Linked DNA regions of Homo sapiens. The protein of the gene in region 4 purifies or fractionates together with the protein of the main gene of each other region. This does not show direct contact. Each region holds a gene or a part of one and is shown on either strand. Other genes may lie near its edges.

Region 1 (4,578 bases), on a different chromosome or scaffold from region 4:
CATCAGTGGTCTTACTTCACCGGGTCCCACTGGTATTATTTACTTAAAATTTTTTTTTAAAGTAGACTTGGTAATTTTATGCATATGTACAGAAAAGTGTGCAGAACATAAATGCATAGCTTGGTGGATTATTGTAAAGTAAAAACCCGTGAAACCAGCAGCTAATCAAAAAAGGGAATGTTGCCAGAACTCCAAGGTACCCTTGATGTCCACTCCCAGTTGCCATCCTTCCTTCCCCAAGTTAATGGTAGTCTTGATTTCTAACAGTACAGTTCAGTTATGCCTGGCTTTTAGTGCTGAGGTTGAGGGTGTTTCGGTGATACAGGCTATAACATTACATGGCTGACTCCTTAGAGTTCTCAGGCCATTACCATATAGAACATGTAAATGTATCTGCAGGTTCGTTTCTTGGGTATTATTAGTAGATGATGTGCCTAATGACAACCCCTTCACTCTTAGTGACTTCATTCATTCATCCATTCACTCTACCTGCCTATGTGCTGTGCCCTCAGCTCAGGTGTGGGCAATCTGCAGAGGGGTAGGCAAGGTCTGCAAGTTATGGCATTGCCGTGGGCTGCTGCTGTGCCAGTGGAAACACAGGTCACCATGGGGACAATTTGGAGGATGAGGAAGAAGAATGTGTGAAGGGGGGGGGGATACGTTTTAAACTGAGTCTGCTAGGAGGAGTTGCCTAAGCTAAAAAGAGTGGTTCAGGAAGCAGAACCGTTATATGCAAAAGCATGTAATGAACATAGAGATCACGTTCTAAAAGTTAATTTAACAATGATTCTTGGATAATGAACAAACGTTTATTAAAGAGCTAATGTGGATGATGTTTAGAATTCAGAGAGAAATTTACCTTTATTTGCAATATTCTAATGTAAGGTGCTTTGGAAATTGGTTTTGTTGTTATGGCCTTAGAAAAACTGTAGAGCAGCTGGGAATGGTAGCTCACACCTGTAATCCCAGCACTTTGGGAGGCCAAGGTGGGTGGATCACCTGAGGTCAGGAGTTCAAGACCAGTCTGGCCAACATGGTGAAACCTATCTCTACTAAAAGTACAAAAAAACCCCAAAAATTAGCCAGATGTGGTGGTGCACGCCTGTAATCCCAGCTACTTGGGAGGCTGAGGCAGGAGAATCACTTGAACCTGGGAGGCGGAGCTTGCTGTGAGCCAAGTTCGCACCATTGCATTCCAGCCTGGGTGACAGAATGAGATTCTATCTCAAAAAAAAAAAAAAAAAAAAAAGAAAAAGGGAAAGAAAGAAAGAAAGAAAATTGTAGAGCAACACATTGCAAATAATGCATGACAACTGGGTATTTCTTCTTGGAGTATGCAGTGAGAGCCAGAGGCCCATAACACCTGGCAGTTTTGAGTGTCACCCACTGTTGACATAGATACCTAATTATTTTAGTATGTTCTGCTCAGGTTTCATAGTGTCAGAGGGTGTGTAATGAGTTATTCCACTGGTTTTAAGATTTCCTTTGAGAGTCAGAAATTCAGGAAACAAGGCTACAGGAGTTTTGATAGCCACTGTTCTGGTGGAATAGAATAGTGTGGGTTCAGAGACTGGATTAAAGGCTAAAGGTAAATTTCACCCCCTTGGAAATGAAGCAGACAATTTTAAGAATTATAACTTGTCTATCTAGTTCTGGATTTGAACCTAGAAAGTTCCCTTAAAAAGTTGCATTTCTAGGCCGGGTGTGGTGGCTCACACCTATAACCCAGCACTTTGGGAGGCCGAGGAGGGTAGATCATGAGGTCAGGAGATCAAGACCATCCTGGCTAACATGGTGAAACCCTGTCCCTACCAAAAATACAAAAAAATTAGCCGGGCGTGGTGGCGGGCGCCTGTAGTCCCAGCTACTCGGGAGGCTGGAGGCTGAGGCAGGAGAATGGAGTGAACCGGGGAGGCAGAGGTTGCAGTGAGTCGAGATCGTGCCACTGCACTCCAGCCTGGGCAACAGAGCGAGACTCTATCTCAAAAAAAAAAAAAAAAAAAGTTGCATTTCTAATAGTGCCTCTAATTTACATTGATATGTTTGTATTGCCTTTTTACCCATCATGACACCCTGGAATGTACATTATTAAGGTTGATTTGGCAGTTCTGGTGACATGGAAGTTTTGGGCTCTCAGTGTGAGAGAAAAGATTCTGCTTCTCACCATGGCCCCTCTGCCACCTCTTCCAGGGCTGCGAATAAAGGAGACCAAGGAAGTTTATGAAGGTGAAGTCACAGAGCTAACTCCGTGTGAGACAGAGAATCCCATGGGAGGATATGGCAAAACCATTAGCCATGTGATCATAGGACTCAAAACAGCCAAAGGAACCAAACAGTTGAAAGTGAGTACATGTATGTGGCCTCTTTTCCCTTGACTCTCCCAGCACTGTGTGGCTTTGGGCAGGTGGTGTAACCTCTCTGCATCCCAGTTTCCTGACCTGTGCACTGCAGGTATTGATTTCTCACAGAATTGGTTGAGGATATTGTGTGTATAAAGCGGTACCTAGCATAGGGCTTGCACATAGGAGGACTCAAGGAAGATAGCTCTTTTCTTACTTACTCCTAGGAAACTCTGCATGTTAAAATGTGAGCTGTGTGGTTAAGTCAAGAAACTGCCTCTGCCATCCCATGTCCCATATTATGACCATGCATCAAATACCCTGGGCTGGGTCTGAACCTGGGCATTAATTTTTCCAGTTATCAGTGCCCATGCTCATAGAAAGAAACAGCATTGAGTAATCAAATAAGAGTTGTATAAAGATGATGGATGGGCTTCCCAGGGGCCACATGCAGAATCCTGACTGCAGTTGCTTGTGTCAGGAACCTGTGGTCGCTTCAGTGGCTGGTTCTGTTTAGTACAGGGCTTTGTGGAGAGGCCAGAATGGTGACACTGGATAGCGCTCAAAGACAGTCCTCAGCCACCTGTCCTGTAAGTCTTTAGGATGGAGGCAGTAGAGTTTCTAGGGGAAGAGCATGAGTTTTGGAGTCTAAGTCCTTAAGGAATCCCTGGCTTTGTTACTTACAACTGTGTGGCATTAATCTCTGAGTAGTAGTTTCTTTATTTGTTGAATGGGAATAATAATTGCCTGTCTTTCAGGGTTATGGCTTTGGGTGTGGCACCTAGTTACCTAATGAATGATAGCTGTTAATGTTATCGTGAGAGCCTTCACTTGGAGAAATGGAGCAGTCTGGATTTTAGGCTTTGCCTTATTATTATTAATAAATATTATCATTATAGCTCTCATTTATTGTATGTGTCAGGCCTTGGACTAAGTGCTTCAACAAACATTTATTGTCATTCATAACTTTATATGTGTATATGTTTGCGTGTGTGTATGTGTGTATAGTTTTCCTCATGTTAACAGATGAAGGCTCATAAAGAGGTTACATGGTTATCCTGGGATCATCCAGCCAGTCATGTGGCAGAGCTGACCCTCTGAGTCCTAACCGTTGTACTGTCTGCCCACCAGCTTGCTGTGTGACCTTTGGAAGTCAGTTGAGCTCTCTGGGACTCAGTTTTCTCATCTATAAACTGCAGGAGATTGACCATATAATTTCTCCATTTTTATTCTGTTCTACGATTTTATGGTTCTTTGATTCTCTGAGGTTGTTTCTTGGTCACTGCTTTATGGAGATCATAAAAATGTCACTTCTTCAAAGGGCCATTTTTCTTTTTCCTAACAGGGTTTCCATCTCAGGAACTTGCCTCTGCAAATATCTCTTTTATACCTACCCCTCGTCACTTCCATTCTGAATTAATTAGATTTCTCAGTAGCATCTGCCACCTTTCCAGTAATTACATCTTCAGTCAATTCATTTGGGAAATTAACCGATATAAAAATGCTTGAGGCAAAAAAGAAGTATATTCTCCAATGTAGGACAGATAAAATAAGGCGTACAGTTTAAATTTCAGCTATTTGTAACACTGCTTTGTACAGTTTCTTTACAAAAATAATGTAGAGGAGAAGATGAAATTTTTCTTCCAAAATGAATACTTTTAGGTATTTTTAGAATATGTACAAGATATTTGGATAGAAGGTGCTCAAATACTTGGTGGATATTCAAGTCTGAAGGAGTCTTCTGAGTTCTAGCAACGAGAATGCCATTAGTACTCATGACCCCTTCCTGCCAGGCCTTACCTGGGGGCCTCACCCACTTTTGTCCTTAGGCGCACAGACTCACAGCAGTTCTGCCAGGGTCTGCCGTCCCCACCCAGCTAAGGAGAGGCAGAACCCTGGGTTTGCTGCTGTGGTGGTAGTTTTTTAAAAGCTTTATTCAGATAGCATTTTAAATAAAACTCACCCATTTTAAGTATACAATTCCAGGAATTTTAATTTATTTTCACAGTTGTACAATCACCACAATCTTAATTTCAGAACATTTTCATCGCCCCAAAAAGAATCCTCCTACTCATTTACAGTCATTCCCCATTCCAACTATAGCCCTCGGCAACTACTAATCTACTTTCGGTTGCCTTCTTTTGGACATTTCATATAAATGGAACATACAGTGTATGTCTTTTTTTGTATCTGGCTTCTTTCACCAAGTCCTGGGTTTTCACTTTTTAATTTTGTTTGG
Region 2 (4,578 bases), about 34 Mb from region 4:
TATATCTTTCCCTAAAAGACTCCAGGAGTCCTCCCCCCACTTTTAAACCTGAGCTAAAGGTTTTTAATCTCTTTGAAACTTATCCTCTACAAGAAGAATCTGGCCAGGGGAAGACAAAATCTGGATTCTCTGACAAGCATTAACTATTTGCAAAAAGAAAGAAAGTGGCTCATCTGAGTTGTCCTAAACTAAGTAGGTCTAATAATTAAAATATTAACTTTTTGTATTAATTTTCACAATTAAATTTGCTTTTCTGTGATCAGAAATAAATTATATGCATGATGCCTTTAATCTTTAAGACTCCATTCTCTAAAATTAATGTCTTGAATTACATAAATAACTTCTTTCTCAAGCAGTCAGATAATAAAGAAGTTCACTTCTAATAATTTCTAGCCTTTCTGTATAATATTTGCCTGTGTAAAAGGAAATGTGTAATAGGGAACATCTGGCTTACTGAAATCCAATCCCAAGTACAAAATGTGATTACAAACCCAGAAATGCAGAATATTTGTGCACAGATCGTTTTTGACTCTAGTTGCAGAAGTCAGCAAAGAGGACCCAAACTTTCCCAGTGAGAGCTCTCTCTCCTGTCATTTACACACTTGACTCTCAATCCTATTTTGGTGTCTTTTATGCAGAATACCCCTGCACTTGTACACATTCAGCCTTTAAATTTCTGGGCCTTCTTTCAGTCACTTGCTTCAAGAAACACAGAGCCAGGCCTCCTGCTGAGAAGCCCCAGTGAAAAATAGCTTTCAACTGGATTTCTTCTCTTTCCTAAATGAGTCAATCTAGCCAGCTGGAAACTTACTGCTGCCAAAATCTGTCCCAGAAAGACATGGATACCAAATGGAAATATCTGGGCCAGACCACTGTTGTGGTGGAGGAGGCAGGTGCTGCAGAAAAAGAGAGCAGCAAAAAATTTGTTAGAAACAGCTCTTCCTAAACACAGAGGAGCCTCTGGGAGTGGACTGGCCTGGCACAGCAGCTAGCAGAGGACAGGGACAATCACCCTATTTTGTTCAGATGGACCTACCAAGGAGATGAAAAGTGAGAAGAATCTTACCTGTGGCACACTGGCATTCATAGCCATTCGGGTGATCGATACACTTTGCCCCATTCAGACACGGAGTACTGGAACAGTCATCAATATCAATCTGGCAAACTGGCCCAGTGAAACCTCAAAAAGGGACAGTGGTAACATGAGTCAAAGGATTATCTTGTGTCTCCCTTTACCATGAGAATGATGTTAGGTTACTAGCAGGGCTTATACCAATGGGTCAATAAGCCTATGCTTTATTATTCTCCCCAACAGGTAACTGGAATAACCAGGTGACACTCAGGGAATCAGAGGCACTTGTGGTGTGTCTCTACCATTGCTTCTTCACAGACAGACTTCACTTCTAAATGAAGGATGTAGGAAGTGAAATTTATAGGTGGAACCTCAAACAAGTAACTGTAGCTTCAGAGGCAACAGAAACCTTCTCTCTGAAGATACAATGGGGTAAGATGCAATCTATGGAGGACAATTTGGCATATCTTCAAAAATAGCTTGAGGAAAAAAAAGGAGAGACAGAGAATCTTGGAAAAATTGGCATGTGTTGTCTGTTTCTGAACTCATGGGTGAAATGTCTAAAAATAACAGTCTCACAGAGGGCCTTCAAGAATATGACCCATGGGAAAAAAATAAAATCCCGAATAGCCTACAACTAAGGCTTCTGTGAGGTATGAGCATTCTGAAATATATACACAGACGAAGAGGTCATGGGCCATTCAAGAATAGACTTGGACTTTTGGCCACAAAGGACTTGTAAGATATAGTAGCTAAAACAAATTCTCTATTTCTGTACACACACACTCCTATCACCAAGCACTTACTCTAATGATTTCCTCATGCACAGCCCACACACATTCTCTCCCTGCTCTCTTCCCTGTGGTCAGTTGGCTTTGTGCTTTAAGAGAAAACAGGGCCAGGTCGTGGGCACTTACCAGGAGGACACAGGCACTGGAAACGATTGACTTTATCCACACACTGCCCATTGTTCACACAAGGGTTGCTCTGACATTCATTTATTTCTAATTCACAATGCACACCTTTGAAACCTAAACAAAACAGACCACACAAGTGGCTTAAAGAGAGAGAAAGGTGTATTCCAGACAAGGAAGCACAAATTTGCAATGATAACTACATCCTTTGCGAGTACACACATTTCTGCAGAGAAAAAAGGAACTCTGCCATGATGAGAAATAGTCACTCCAAGTGTCAAGCAGGACAGGGCATACTGTGAAATACCCATGTCACTGTGAAAAGCGGGAAGGGATTACATTAAAAGACATTGGCAAGACCTAGCATATAAACAAGGACTGCTCCACATTTTCTGTGATAAATCCATACTTTCTGGACTGTGGAAGGCCCAAAATGTCCCCACTCTATGTTCCTAAAGACAAGCTGAGCTGGAGCTGTTGTTGCCTTCAGGGTGCAGTTCAAGGTCAGCAGTGCCTTTCAAGGCTGGAGTGGCCGGCAGCCTTAATCAGGCAGAGCAGCCAATGTTAGCCATCATTTCAAGCTGGATTTGGCTGTATCCTCTCAAAATTAAAGACATGGTCTATGCAGAAGAGCTCCAGAATACAACTAAACATGTACTGCACTTTAGATAAATGGAAACTTCCTATATAATTGTGGATAAAATTTATTTATATAAATGGAATGGTATGGTATTTGTAATTACATGAAGGTATCAGGAAAACTTGCTATTTAAAGGATTCTTACAGTAAATCATTTTTGAAATTTTCTATTACATGTGGATTTTGATATAACAGGCTTGTTTAATTTGGTCTACATAGCTTGATGAATTCTAGCACTGCCTTACTCTTTGAGTAAGGAAGGTTTGCTTGTGAACCCTGACTTCCTCTAGTCCCCAGTCAGCAAAGGAAATCAAATGCTGACAGAGCTCATCAGACTGCAATAGTATACTGAATGCTCTACCAAGAGAAGTTCAGAACAGTCCCTCCTCTCTAGACCCAACATGCTGATGGGCCCATTTACCTGGCATGCACAGACATGTGAAGCCTCCAATCTTATCCAGACAGGTAGCATCATTCTGGCAGGGGTCTGAATGGCACTCATTGATGTCCATCTCACAACGAGGTCCTGCATAACCCTTCAGACACTCACAGTGGAAGGCGCCATCCGTGTTCACACATTTTCCTGCATGCTCACAAGGATTGCTATTGGCTGAAAGACACAAGTACCAATTACTGGGATCAAAGCAGTTGAGTTTCCACAAATGTGAACAATAGAAGAGCATCTGATGGTTATAGCATCAGGGCCAGGCCTTCAATAATATCATTCCCAATTTTCTATTTTTTTTTCCTTAATTTAAAAAGAAATAAAAGCGGAGTATCCTCAACTGTTATGCATTTCTGCTATTGCAGTTTCTGCCCAAACTGTCATTGAGGTAGGGCTTTATATTAAGAATCAAGTACATACGTTTCATACAGTTAATCCCCAGAATGGAATATATGGTTATGGCTATGCTGAAAGGTCACTTGTAAACACTGGCCATGTAGCAAGAGTAATCTGAGGTTTGGGTGTATGTAATTTGCTTCTACAGTAAAATGTGCTTCAGTTTAAACATTTGCTGAGCTCAACAGACACTTCACAGAACAGAAAAAGTTCTGCTTACTCACCCATGGCACATTCATCCACATCTTCTGTGCAGTCAGCCCCTTTGTAGCCTTGTGGGCAGGTGCAAATATATTGCCCATTTAGGGGGTTGGTGTCACACAGTGCCCCCTTGTGGCAAGGATTGCTGATGCATGCATCATCCAGATGACACAGGAGACCTGTCACAGGGTGGGGCAAAGGACAACTAAGAGAAAATGTCTCTCACTTGGGGAAGAGCTTTCTCTTTCACCCAGGAGGGAAAACCTCATGATCAGTTCCTCAGAATCCAACATGGAGATTTATACGCAACTTCTGCTTTGCCTGACCCTACCTTGGGGACATGCTTGGCCACCAGCAAAGCACCTAGATGCAACCCTAGACTCTGACCCTGAGCTCTCAGCTAGACCTCTCCTCCAGGACAGAGACATCTACAGGCCAGAAGATAAGAAGACGGAGACAGGAAAGTGGAGCTATCTTCCAGATAGTGTGCCAGATTTAGCAAATAAAATAGAGGATGTCCAGTTGAATTTTAGATAAACAAGAAGTAATTTTTAGTATGTCTCAAATATTCCATACATCCTATATTTTATCCGGAATCCTACTTCCCCAATATTATGCTACCTGATGATCATGGGGCCACCTGAACACCATCAGCCTCTACTAGAGTAATCTTTTAATAGCATCAACATTCCTGATTCAGGTGGCCCCAGGTCTCTGAAGATATTACTAGGCTTCCTGTTTTATATAGTTCACATGGGAACTGGATTTTCCAGTCTGCAATTAACTTAAGAAGAGGTAACTAAAGCTTCTTCCACAAAGCTGGAGCTAGAGCTTTTGGAAAGGCCTCCATGAAAGAACATTTCAAAACTGCTGGGCAGAAAGTTCTCCCAGCTAAATTATCTTCTCCCATC
Region 3 (4,578 bases), on a different chromosome or scaffold from region 4:
AGTGGGGAGGGAGCTTCCAGGTTGTAGGTAGATAAGAGACAAATGGTTGCATTCTTTTGAGTTTCTGATGCGCCTCTCCAAAGGAGCCAATCAGATATGCAGGTATCTCAGTGAGCAGAGTGGGGACTCTGAATAGAATGGGAAGCAGGTTTGTCCAAGCAGTTCCTAGCTGGACTTTTTCCTTGAGTTTAGTGATTTGGGAGCCCCAAATTGATTTTCCTTTCACAGCATTTATGAACTGCAGCATGAATTGTTTTATTAAGTGGCTAACCATGTTCTAGAAACCAAGAGATGTGTTTGTGTGTGTGTTTGTGTGTGTATGTGTGTGCATATGTGTGTTTGTGTGTGTTTGCATGTGTGTGCGTGTGTGTGTTTGGGTGTGTGTGTTTGTGTGTGTATATGTGTTTGTGTGTTTGCATATTTGTGTGTGCATGTGTGCGCATGCGTGTTTGTGTGTATTTGCATGTGTGTGCACGTGTATGTGCGTGTGTGTTTGCATGTGTGTGTTTGCATGTATGTGTTGGCATGTGTGTTTGCGTGTGTGTGTGCGTTTGCGTGTGTGTGTTTGCGCGCGCGCGTGTGTGTGTGTGTCTAAATGGCTTCTTTGTTACTACTATCAACTGTCATCGGCAGGTCCTTTGGCGTGGTCCTTTGGGAAATCACCAGCTTGGCAGAACAGCCTTACCAAGGCCTGTCTAATGAACAGGTGTTGAAATTTGTCATGGATGGAGGGTATCTGGATCAACCCGACAACTGTCCAGAGAGAGTGTAAGTGTAGAAAGGGTTTAAGGTGTGTGAGGTGTTCGTTGAAAGGGTATTGCCCTTTACACGTGTGCTTGGTTTTGCCTTTCCTATGTCTACACGCTCACCGTGTTTGCATGCTGTATGTTACAGGTGTGTTTGTGTTTGCATAGCTTGTCTTTACATGCATGCTTGCATTTGCATATTGCATTGTGGTACACACACTTGAGTTCCCATATGTGCTACATGTACGCTTACGTTTGCATATTATATATTTACATAGGTATTTATGTTTGCATATTATATGTTTCTGTGTGCATCAGCATATCATGGCACATGTACACCTCATTTACATATTATAAGCACACATGTTTACATATTATGTCTTTACCTGCCTGCTTGTGTTCACAAATCATATGATTTTCTTGCATATTGTATCTTTGGAAGGTTGCACAAAACACCTATAGCGGTAGTTATCTTGGGAGAAGGGAACTGGAGACCTGGGGTTGGGGGAGAGAGACCTGTTTGCCTGTTAATTTTTTTTTTTTTTTTTTTTTTTTTGAGACGGAATCTTGCTCTGTCACCCAGGCTGGAGTGCAGTGGTGCGAGCTCGGCTGACTTCAAGCTCCGCCTCCCGGGTTCACACCATTCTCTTGCCTCAGCCTCCCGAGTAGCTAGGACTACAGGCACCCACCACCGCGCCTGGCTAATTTTTTTTTTTTTTTGTATTTTTAGTAGAAATGGGGTTTCACCGTGGTCTCGATCTCCTGACCTCGTGATCCACCCACCTTGGCTTCCCAAAGTGCTGGGATTACAGCCGCCTGTTAATTCTTTATACACTTAAAATTTTGTCAGGTAGCTGGGCATGGGTGGCTCACGCCTGTAATCCCAAGCAATTTGGGAGACCGAGGTGAACGATCACCTAAGGTCAGGAGTTCAAGACCAGCCTGGCCAACATGGTGAAACCCCGCCTCTATTAAAAATATAAAAATTACCCAGGCGCGGTCGTGGGCGCCTGTAATCCCAGCTACTCAGGAGGCTGAGGCAGGAGAATTGCTTGAATCGGGGAGGCAGAGGTTGCAGTGAGCAGAGACTGCACCATTGCACTGCAGCATGGGTGACAGAGTGAGATTCTGTCTCAAAAACAAACACAGACACACAAAAATTTTGTCAGGCATACATATTATATATTCCCCCCTCCAAATATATATGCATATGTACATATATATATATTTAGATGAAGTCTCGCTGTGTCACCCAGGCTGGTAGAGCGCAGTGGCACAATCACAGCTCACTGCAACCTTGAACTCCTGGACTCAGCCTCCTGGCTCAACCTCCCAAAGTGCTGGGATTACTCTTGAGCCAGTTTTGAAATGAGGAATCCCTTTTCAAAACCATCTTTCAGGCTGGACAGGATGGCTCATGCCTGGAACCTCAGCACTTTGGGAGGTTGAGGCAGGAGGATGGCTTGAGCCCAGGAGTTCAAGGCTGCAATGAGCTATGATTGCGCCACTGCACTCCATCCTGGGTGACAAAGTGAGAAACCCTGTCTCAAAAAAAAAAAAAAGCGGCCAGGCATGGTGGCTAACACCTGTAATCCCAGCACCTTGGGAGGCCAAGGTGGGTGGATCATTTGAGCCTAGGAGTTTGAGGCCAGCCTGGGCAACATAGCAAAACCCTGTCTCTGCAAAAAATACAAAAATTAGCTAGGCATGGTGGTGCACACCTGTGGTCCCAGCTACTTGGGAGGCCAAGGTGAGAGGATTGCTCGAGCCTAGGAGGCAGAGGCTGCAGTGAGCTATGATCATGCCACTGCACTCCAGCCTGGGTGACAGAATGAGACGCTGTGTCCAAAATAAGAAGAAGAAAAGCAAAAAGAAAACACCATCTCTCAGCACCTCTAGCAATGCTATTTCTGCCTTGACAATTGTCCACACACACAGCCAGCATCTGATGTGAGCACATGTGGTCCGTGGGTGTCGGCTGCAGGGACAAGAGTGGGGGTTTGGGAGGATGCGTGGCAGGGCCCCCAGACTCACCCAGGACGTGTCCTTCTGCCCCGCAGCACTGACCTCATGCGCATGTGCTGGCAATTCAACCCCAAGATGAGGCCAACCTTCCTGGAGATTGTCAACCTGCTCAAGGACGACCTGCACCCCAGCTTTCCAGAGGTGTCGTTCTTCCACAGCGAGGAGAACAAGGCTCCCGAGAGTGAGGAGCTGGAGATGGAGTTTGAGGACATGGAGAATGTGCCCCTGGACCGTTCCTCGCACTGTCAGAGGGAGGAGGCGGGGGGCCGGGATGGAGGGTCCTCGCTGGGTTTCAAGCGGAGCTACGAGGAACACATCCCTTACACACACATGAACGGAGGCAAGAAAAACGGGCGGATTCTGACCTTGCCTCGGTCCAATCCTTCCTAACAGTGCCTACCGTGGCGGGGGCGGGCAGGGGTTCCCATTTTCGCTTTCCTCTGGTTTGAAAGCCTCTGGAAAACTCAGGATTCTCACGACTCTACCATGTCCAATGGAGTTCAGAGATCGTTCCTATACATTTCTGTTCATCTTAAGGTGGACTCGTTTGGTTACCAATTTAACTAGTCCTGCAGAGGATTTAACTGTGAACCTGGAGGGCAAGGGGTTTCCACAGTTGCTGCTCCTTTGGGGCAACGACGGTTTCAAACCAGGATTTTGTGTTTTTTCGTTCCCCCCACCCGCCCCCAGCAGATGGAAAGAAAGCACCTGTTTTTACAAATTCTTTTTTTTTTTTTTTTTTTTTGCTGGTGTCTGAGCTTCAGTATAAAAGACAAAACTTCCTGTTTGTGGAACAAAAGTTCGAAAGAAAAAACAAAACAAAAACACCCAGCCCTGTTCCAGGAGAATTTCAAGTTTTACAGGTTGAGCTTCAAGATGGTTTTTTTGGTTTTTTTTTTTTCTCTCATCCAGGCTGAAGGATTTTTTTTTTCTTTACAAAATGAGTTCCTCAAATTGACCAATAGCTGCTGCTTTCATATTTTGGATAAGGGTCTGTGGTCCCGGCGTGTGCTCACGTGTGTATGCACGTGTGTGTGTCCATTAGACACGGCTGATGTGTGTGCAAAGTATCCATGCGGAGTTGATGCTTTGGGAATTGGCTCATGAAGGTTCTTCTCAAGGGTGCGAGCTCATCCCCCTCTCTCCTTCCTTCTTATTGACTGGGAGACTGTGCTCTCGACAGATTCTTCTTGTGTCAGAAGTCTAGCCTCAGGTTTCTACCCTCCCTTCACATTGGTGGCCAAGGGAGGAGCATTTCATTTGGAGTGATTATGAATCTTTTCAAGACCAAACCAAGCTAGGACATTAAAAAAAAAAAAAGAAAAAGAAAGAAAAAACAAAATGGAAAAAGGAAAAAAAAAAAGAACTGAGATGACAGAGTTTTGAGAATATATTTGTACCATATTTAATTTTTAAAGTCTCTGGTATTAGCCTCATAAGTTATTGACTATTCCCCGGGGTTGGCGGGGAGTGGGGACATGAGTTGGTCTGCCTGTTGTGGGGCCGGGAAGGGGAGGGAGTCAGGCACAAGTGGCCTCTTTGTTTGGTCTTAAAGGCATCCATTTCTGGGAATGAAGCCATGTTCGCTGCTAACACTTTTGGATGTTGTGAGGCCACGTGGAGTGTGTGAGAGACTAGGTTTTATGGATGGTCTGGTTCAGGTACCAGGTCTGCTGGAAGGTTCCTGTTCGGATAAGCTGGTAGCTACCTAGCTCTGAGCCTGCCTTCAAGAACACCTGTGTTCATCCTCTGATTCTCTGTGTGTACCTCTTGTGGCGTTTCCTCTCCCGGGTGTGAACATCCTAAC
Region 4 (5,597 bases):
AGGTACTGGGTGTTACGGATTTAACACACGAATTTGAGGGGACACAATTCAGCCTGTAAGAGCCAGTAACTTCGGCCCACTACCACATGGGCCTCTTGGTACTCACAACCTGGCAGCTTGCTTCCCCCAGAGTGAATGATCTAGGAAGGAGACCAAAAAAGCAAGAGCCTAAGGCAGAAACCACAGCCTTTCTCCAAACCTAATCTTAGAGGTAACGTATTACTTCTGCTGTATGCTATCAGTGACACAGACCAATCCTGGGATGATGCAGGAGCAGTCTACACATTGGTCTGAACACTGTGGGGGTGGAGAATCACTGGGGAACATACTGGTGCTTGTCTACCACAAACCTATATCCATAATATATGAAGAACTACTACAATTTGATAATAAAAGACGTCAATTAAAAATGGGCAAAAGATCTGAATAAACATTTCATTAAAGAAAATATCCAAATGGCCAGTTGGCAGATGAAAAGATGTTCAACATCATTAGTCATTAAAGAAATGTAAATTCTCAATGACGTACCCCTACACATCTATAATCAAATAACTGATAATACTAAGAATTGGCCGGGATGTAGAGAAATAGGAACCCTCAGCCAGTAGGAATGTAAAATGGTATAGCTACTTTGGAAAACAGTTTGGGCATTTCTTTAAAAATTAACATAAATTTATATGGCCCAGCAATTCCACTCCTAGTTATTTACTTAACGGGAAATGTAAACATGTCCACACAAAGACTTGCATATGAATGTGGAAGCAGAATTATTCGTAATAGCCCAAACTGGAAACAAGCCAAATGCCCACCAACTGGTACATGCATGAAAAAACGTGCCACATTCATACAATGCAATGTTATTCAGCAATACCGGGCATTAGGCACTTTCGCCTAATATATTTATGATGTTCTCTGAGAGAATCCTGCAGAATGCTGGGAATGGGGAATAGCCTGACGCAGGCTGTTACTTAGAAAGAATGGAAAGAAAAATTAATGCCCTCTTTCCTACTTGAAACCCATCATGATTCCCAGTTATACACTGAGTTTGTGTCTGTCACTGACAGTTGATTCCTATGCATGATCTCATATTATCTTCGCAATGACACTGGGAGATTTATATTAATAATACCATGCTCCCTAGTTTATAGCTTCAAGAAACTAAAGCTTGCAAAGGTGTAACATCAGGTGTGTCCTTTTTCATACAAGATTGGATTTAATGGTTAACACAGATAAGGGTGGGTTTTCCCATTTCCAGAGTGTAAGGGTTTCGCTTCTCTCCCTCTGCCGGTCTCCTCCACTGTTTACACCCAGTAGGGCGTGGAGGGTGGCCTAGGGTGTGGCCCAGGAGGCTTCCCTAAGGGAAGGGGGTGGTGGAAACCAGGCGGTTTGAAGCCCATCAGGATTCCCAGTTATATATCGAGTTTGTGTCCGTCACTGCTAGTTGATTTCCATGCATGATCTCATATAATCTTTGCAATGACACTGGGAGATTTATATTAATAATACCATGGTCCCTAGTTTATAGCTTTAAGAAACTAAAGCTTGGAAAGGCCTAATAACATCAGGTGTGTCCTCCATTTTCATGCAAGATTGGATTTAATGGTTAACACAGATTAGGGTGGGTTTTCCCACTTCCAGAGTGTAAGGGTTTCGCTTCTCTCCCTCTGCCGGTCTCCTACACTCTTTACACCCAGCAGGGCGTGGAGGGTGGCCCAGGGAGTGGCCCAGGAGGCTTCTCTAAGGGAAGAGGGTGGTGGAAACCAGGAAGGAGACGAGAACCCCAGCGGGCAAGTCACGCAGTTACGCTTGTTCGCCCAGAGAATCCGGCAGGGCCTCCGCAGAGCCGTAAAGAGCTCTACAAGTCGTGAAGGGGCGAGGCGCAAAAGCGTAGCTTTACGGCGATTCGAGCAGTCGCGTCAAGCAGGCTATTCCGGGTTTGTGGCTGCTTGGCTCCACACGTGGGCCGCCGTAGGTATTCCGACCGGTAATTCCTCCTATTGGTGTGCAGCAGCCACATTGAAGGATAGAGTGGCAGCAGAGGCCAAGGATCGTGAGTTGATGGAGTTTGCTGCTGAAAATGAAGGGAAGTCTGGGGGAGGTCTCCACAGCGTAGCTGAGGGGGTGCGGCTAAGTCCAGAGCCTGGCAGGGAGGGAGTAAGGGACTTAGCAGGGGCGGAGGAGTTCGGCGGCGGAGAGGAGGGGACAGGGCTGACAGGGATAAAGGAGATAGGGGATGGAGAGGAAGGAAGTGGACAAAGGCCAGAGGAAATACCGATGGACCTAACGGTAGTGAAGCAGGAAATTATAGACTGGCCAGGTACAGAAGGCAGGTTGGCTGGCCAGTGGGTAGAACAGGAGGTGGAGGATAGGCCTGAGGTGAAGGATGAGAACGCAGGCGTATTGGAGGTGAAGCAGGAGACGGATAGTAGTTTAGTGGTAAAAGAAGCGAAGGTGGGTGAACCAGAGGTAAAGGAAGAGAAGGTAAAGGAAGAGGTAATGGACTGGTCAGAAGTGAAGGAAGAGAAGGATAACTTGGAGATAAAACAGGAGGAGAAGTTTGTTGGTCAATGCATAAAAGAGGAATTGATGCATGGAGAGTGTGTAAAAGAAGAGAAGGATTTCCTGAAGAAAGAAATCGTGGATGATACAAAGGTGAAAGAAGAGCCTCCGATAAATCACCCGGTGGGCTGCAAGCGGAAACTGGCCATGTCAAGGTAGGGCATGGGGGATTCCATTTAGGGGAATAAAGCTGTGGAGTCCTCATGTCTAGAGTGAAGGAAACCACACTATCAGGAGAAGGTGGAATAATGAAAAATGAGCACAAGTTTGGGTTTCTGGAGTCAGACGGCGTTCGCGGGGGTGGGTTGGGAAGTGGAGGGTGTTGTACATGACAACACAACAAATTCAGTGAAAATACATGAAATTAGTAGTGTCCAATGGGTAATGGTCAAGTTAGGAAAGTGGAAATTCTGGGGACCAAAAGATCAGTTGGAACTGGATCTGGCTTGACTTAATATGCTCTTTACTCGGTATTCCTTTGAGAGAGAATAGAGATGAGAAAGTCTAATAAAACTAACAATGACAAAGTAGATTAAGTTAAAACTAGGCAAAAATACACTTGACCTCAATTATCAAGCTTCTTCATGGGTGCTGTGAATATTTATTGCTTTTGATTGAATTTCCTTAGTGTGTGGATCATGTGACAAAGGAAATAAGAGTAGTCAGATTCTTGAGAATATTCCCGTCTAGAACACAGTGGGCTAAATAGAAGTAACTGTAGTTTGGTTGTCAGTATCCCAGGAGCATAGAAGAGCAGTTGAGGACAGATGATGGGTTACATGGCATTTCTAGATTATTTCGATGCTCATTCTAGATTAGGCGTGGAGTTCAGGAAAAAGGGTGCTACTACTACTCTCTAAATTTCACTTGGCCTTATATTCTTTGTCTGGTGTGTGCTTTAAAAATATCTAAACATAGCTCATGAATTGGACTTCTGGATACACACACATACAATCATTACCACATTTCCAGGAATCACAAGTTAAAATATCAGTGAATAATCTCATTCCCTGATTATAGTAGAAAAAGAAGTCAAAAGCGAGATGGGTTTTAAAAATTTTAATACATTTTCCTGAGTTACATATCACTAACAACATTGGAAATGTAGTTGTTTTGGGAAGGTTTCATAGAGAAGAATTTTCAAATGATGTTCAACAGCTATCAAATATTTTATCAGTTACTTGTCACTGAGTTTATAAATTGATTGGGAATTCTAAGTTTATAAATAAATACAATTAATATTTGATAATTTAATGTTACATGTGGGCTTTTGTAGGTGTGAGACTTGTGGTACAGAAGAAGCAAAGTACAGATGTCCACGTTGTATGCGATATTCCTGCAGGTATACATGTAACTTCCTACCTTTTAACCTGTATCTGTACCTTTCTTACCCTAAAATATAAAAGTACTTCCCCTTTGTCTTTTCAGTTTGCCCTGTGTAAAGAAACACAAAGCAGAACTGACATGTAATGGAGTTCGAGATAAAACTGCATACATTTCAATACAACAGTTTACTGAAATGAATCTCCTAAGTGGTAAGCCACTTTATGCATAGCAAATTGAGGCTTCCTGGCCATTGGTATATGTCACTTGTTTATTCTTCTGTTTTGAAATTTTTAGATTATCGATTTTTGGAAGATGTGGCAAGAACAGCGGACCATATTTCTAGAGATGCTTTTTTGAAGAGACCAATAAGCAATAAATATGTAAGATTTTTTCCTAATTTCTTCCAGTTAGAAGTCCTTCAAATCAATTAGATTCTTTTTTTTTTTTTAACTTACCAAATATATTAAGTGGCTACCATGATGTAGAGCTATTCTGATTACTTAAGGATATGGCTGTGACCCAAACAAAGTCCGTCCCCTCGTGGAGTTGTATTTAGTGGGAGATATAGGAGATAAGTAGAGGAACAAATGTAATTTCAGATAGAGTTAAGTTCATATAGAAAATAAAGAAGGCTCAAGAGATTAAAGAGAGAATGAAAATGGTCTTTGTTGGGGAGAGATTGTCAGGGTACTATTTTCGATACAGTGGTCAGGAGAAGCTTCTCAAAGAGATGATGTGTAAGCAGTGATCTGAGTGCTGAGAAAGAGGCTGTCATGTGAACATTTGGAGGCAGATTATCCCAGGTAGGGACAAAAGTAAAAGGAAAGACCTGAGTCAGAAACAAGGATGTCTGGTTTGAGGAATTAAAAGATTTGCAAGGTAACTGAAGCATAGTGAGTGAGGAGGAGAGTATTGAAAATGAAGTTAGAGAAACTGGTGAGGAGTTGGGTGCAGTGGCTCATGCCTGTAATCCAAACACTTTGGGAGGCTGAGGCCAGAGCATTCCTTGAGCTCAGGAGTTCAAGACCAGCCTGGGCAACATGGTGAAAACCCGTCTCTATAAAACAATACAAAAATTAGCCAGGCGTGGTGGCGTGCCCCTGTACTCCCAGCAACTTGAGAAGCTGAGGTGGGAGGATCACCAGAGCCCAGGAAGGTCAAGGCTGCAGTGAGCCATGATTGCGCCACTACACTCCAGCCTGGGCAACAGAGTGAGACTCTGTCTCAAAAGAAAAAAGAAAAGAAACTGGTGAGGGTTTCTAATTCTAAGTGCAAATGGAAACCATGGAAGGGTTTTGAACATAAATTTGCCTTTTGAAAAACCACTCTTGCACTTTGTGAACTTTAGCGGGGCAAGAATGGAAGATTGGAAGCAGGGAGACCAATTATGCAGCTCTTCCCATGATCCTTGTGAGATAATAGTGGCTTGGGTGTACTGTTTGAATTATTGGGAAGGGATTAGATTGCGATTTTGAAGGAAGAGCTAACAAGACTTGCTATTCTAATACACTTAATTTTCATACTCTTGCATTCCTTTTTTAATTCCTTAAATACTATGCAAAATTAAAGCTTACATATTTGGAATATTTGGCAACTGGTGTTGTAGAAATTTGTTTATGGTGTGATTAAATCGTATCCTGGAATTGTGTTCATTTTAGTATTGGAGTTGCAGAATTTTAATACCTTTTAAACACCTTATTTTATTGGTATTA

The links.
Region 1: the proteins of ZNHIT6 (region 4) and RUVBL1 purify together in Homo sapiens (co-immunoprecipitation; 4 studies listed by BioGRID and IntAct, with this or other methods). This does not show direct contact.
Region 2: the proteins of ZNHIT6 (region 4) and NOTCH2 purify together in Homo sapiens (co-immunoprecipitation; one large-scale study listed by IntAct). This does not show direct contact.
Region 3: the proteins of ZNHIT6 (region 4) and INSR purify together in Homo sapiens (co-immunoprecipitation; one large-scale study listed by IntAct). This does not show direct contact.

What each region holds. Positions count from the first base shown.
Region 1 is NC_000003.12:128,102,537-128,107,114, reverse strand, and holds part of RUVBL1 (ruvB-like 1), read left to right. Parts: intron 1-2,190; coding exon 2,191-2,342; intron 2,343-4,578. UniProt on the Homo sapiens protein: Possesses single-stranded DNA-stimulated ATPase and ATP-dependent DNA helicase (3' to 5') activity; hexamerization is thought to be critical for ATP hydrolysis and adjacent subunits in the ring-like structure contribute to the ATPase activity.
Region 2 is NC_000001.11:119,964,387-119,968,964, forward strand, and holds part of NOTCH2 (neurogenic locus notch homolog protein 2 isoform 1 preproprotein), read right to left. Parts: intron 3,847-4,578; coding exon 3,691-3,846; intron 3,236-3,690; coding exon 3,047-3,235; intron 2,104-3,046; coding exon 1,990-2,103; intron 1,181-1,989; coding exon 1,067-1,180; intron 1-1,066. UniProt on the Homo sapiens protein: Functions as a receptor for membrane-bound ligands Jagged-1 (JAG1), Jagged-2 (JAG2) and Delta-1 (DLL1) to regulate cell-fate determination.
Region 3 is NC_000019.10:7,115,639-7,120,216, reverse strand, and holds part of INSR (insulin receptor isoform Long preproprotein), read left to right. Parts: intron 1-633; coding exon 634-768; intron 769-2,806; coding exon 2,807-3,161; 3' UTR 3,162-4,578. UniProt on the Homo sapiens protein: Receptor tyrosine kinase which mediates the pleiotropic actions of insulin.
Region 4 is NC_000001.11:85,704,746-85,710,342, reverse strand, and holds the start of ZNHIT6 (box C/D snoRNA protein 1), read left to right. Parts: upstream 1-1,909; 5' UTR 1,910-2,058; coding exon 2,059-2,714; intron 2,715-3,835; coding exon 3,836-3,901; intron 3,902-3,987; coding exon 3,988-4,094; intron 4,095-4,179; coding exon 4,180-4,265; intron 4,266-5,597. UniProt on the Homo sapiens protein: Required for box C/D snoRNAs accumulation involved in snoRNA processing, snoRNA transport to the nucleolus and ribosome biogenesis.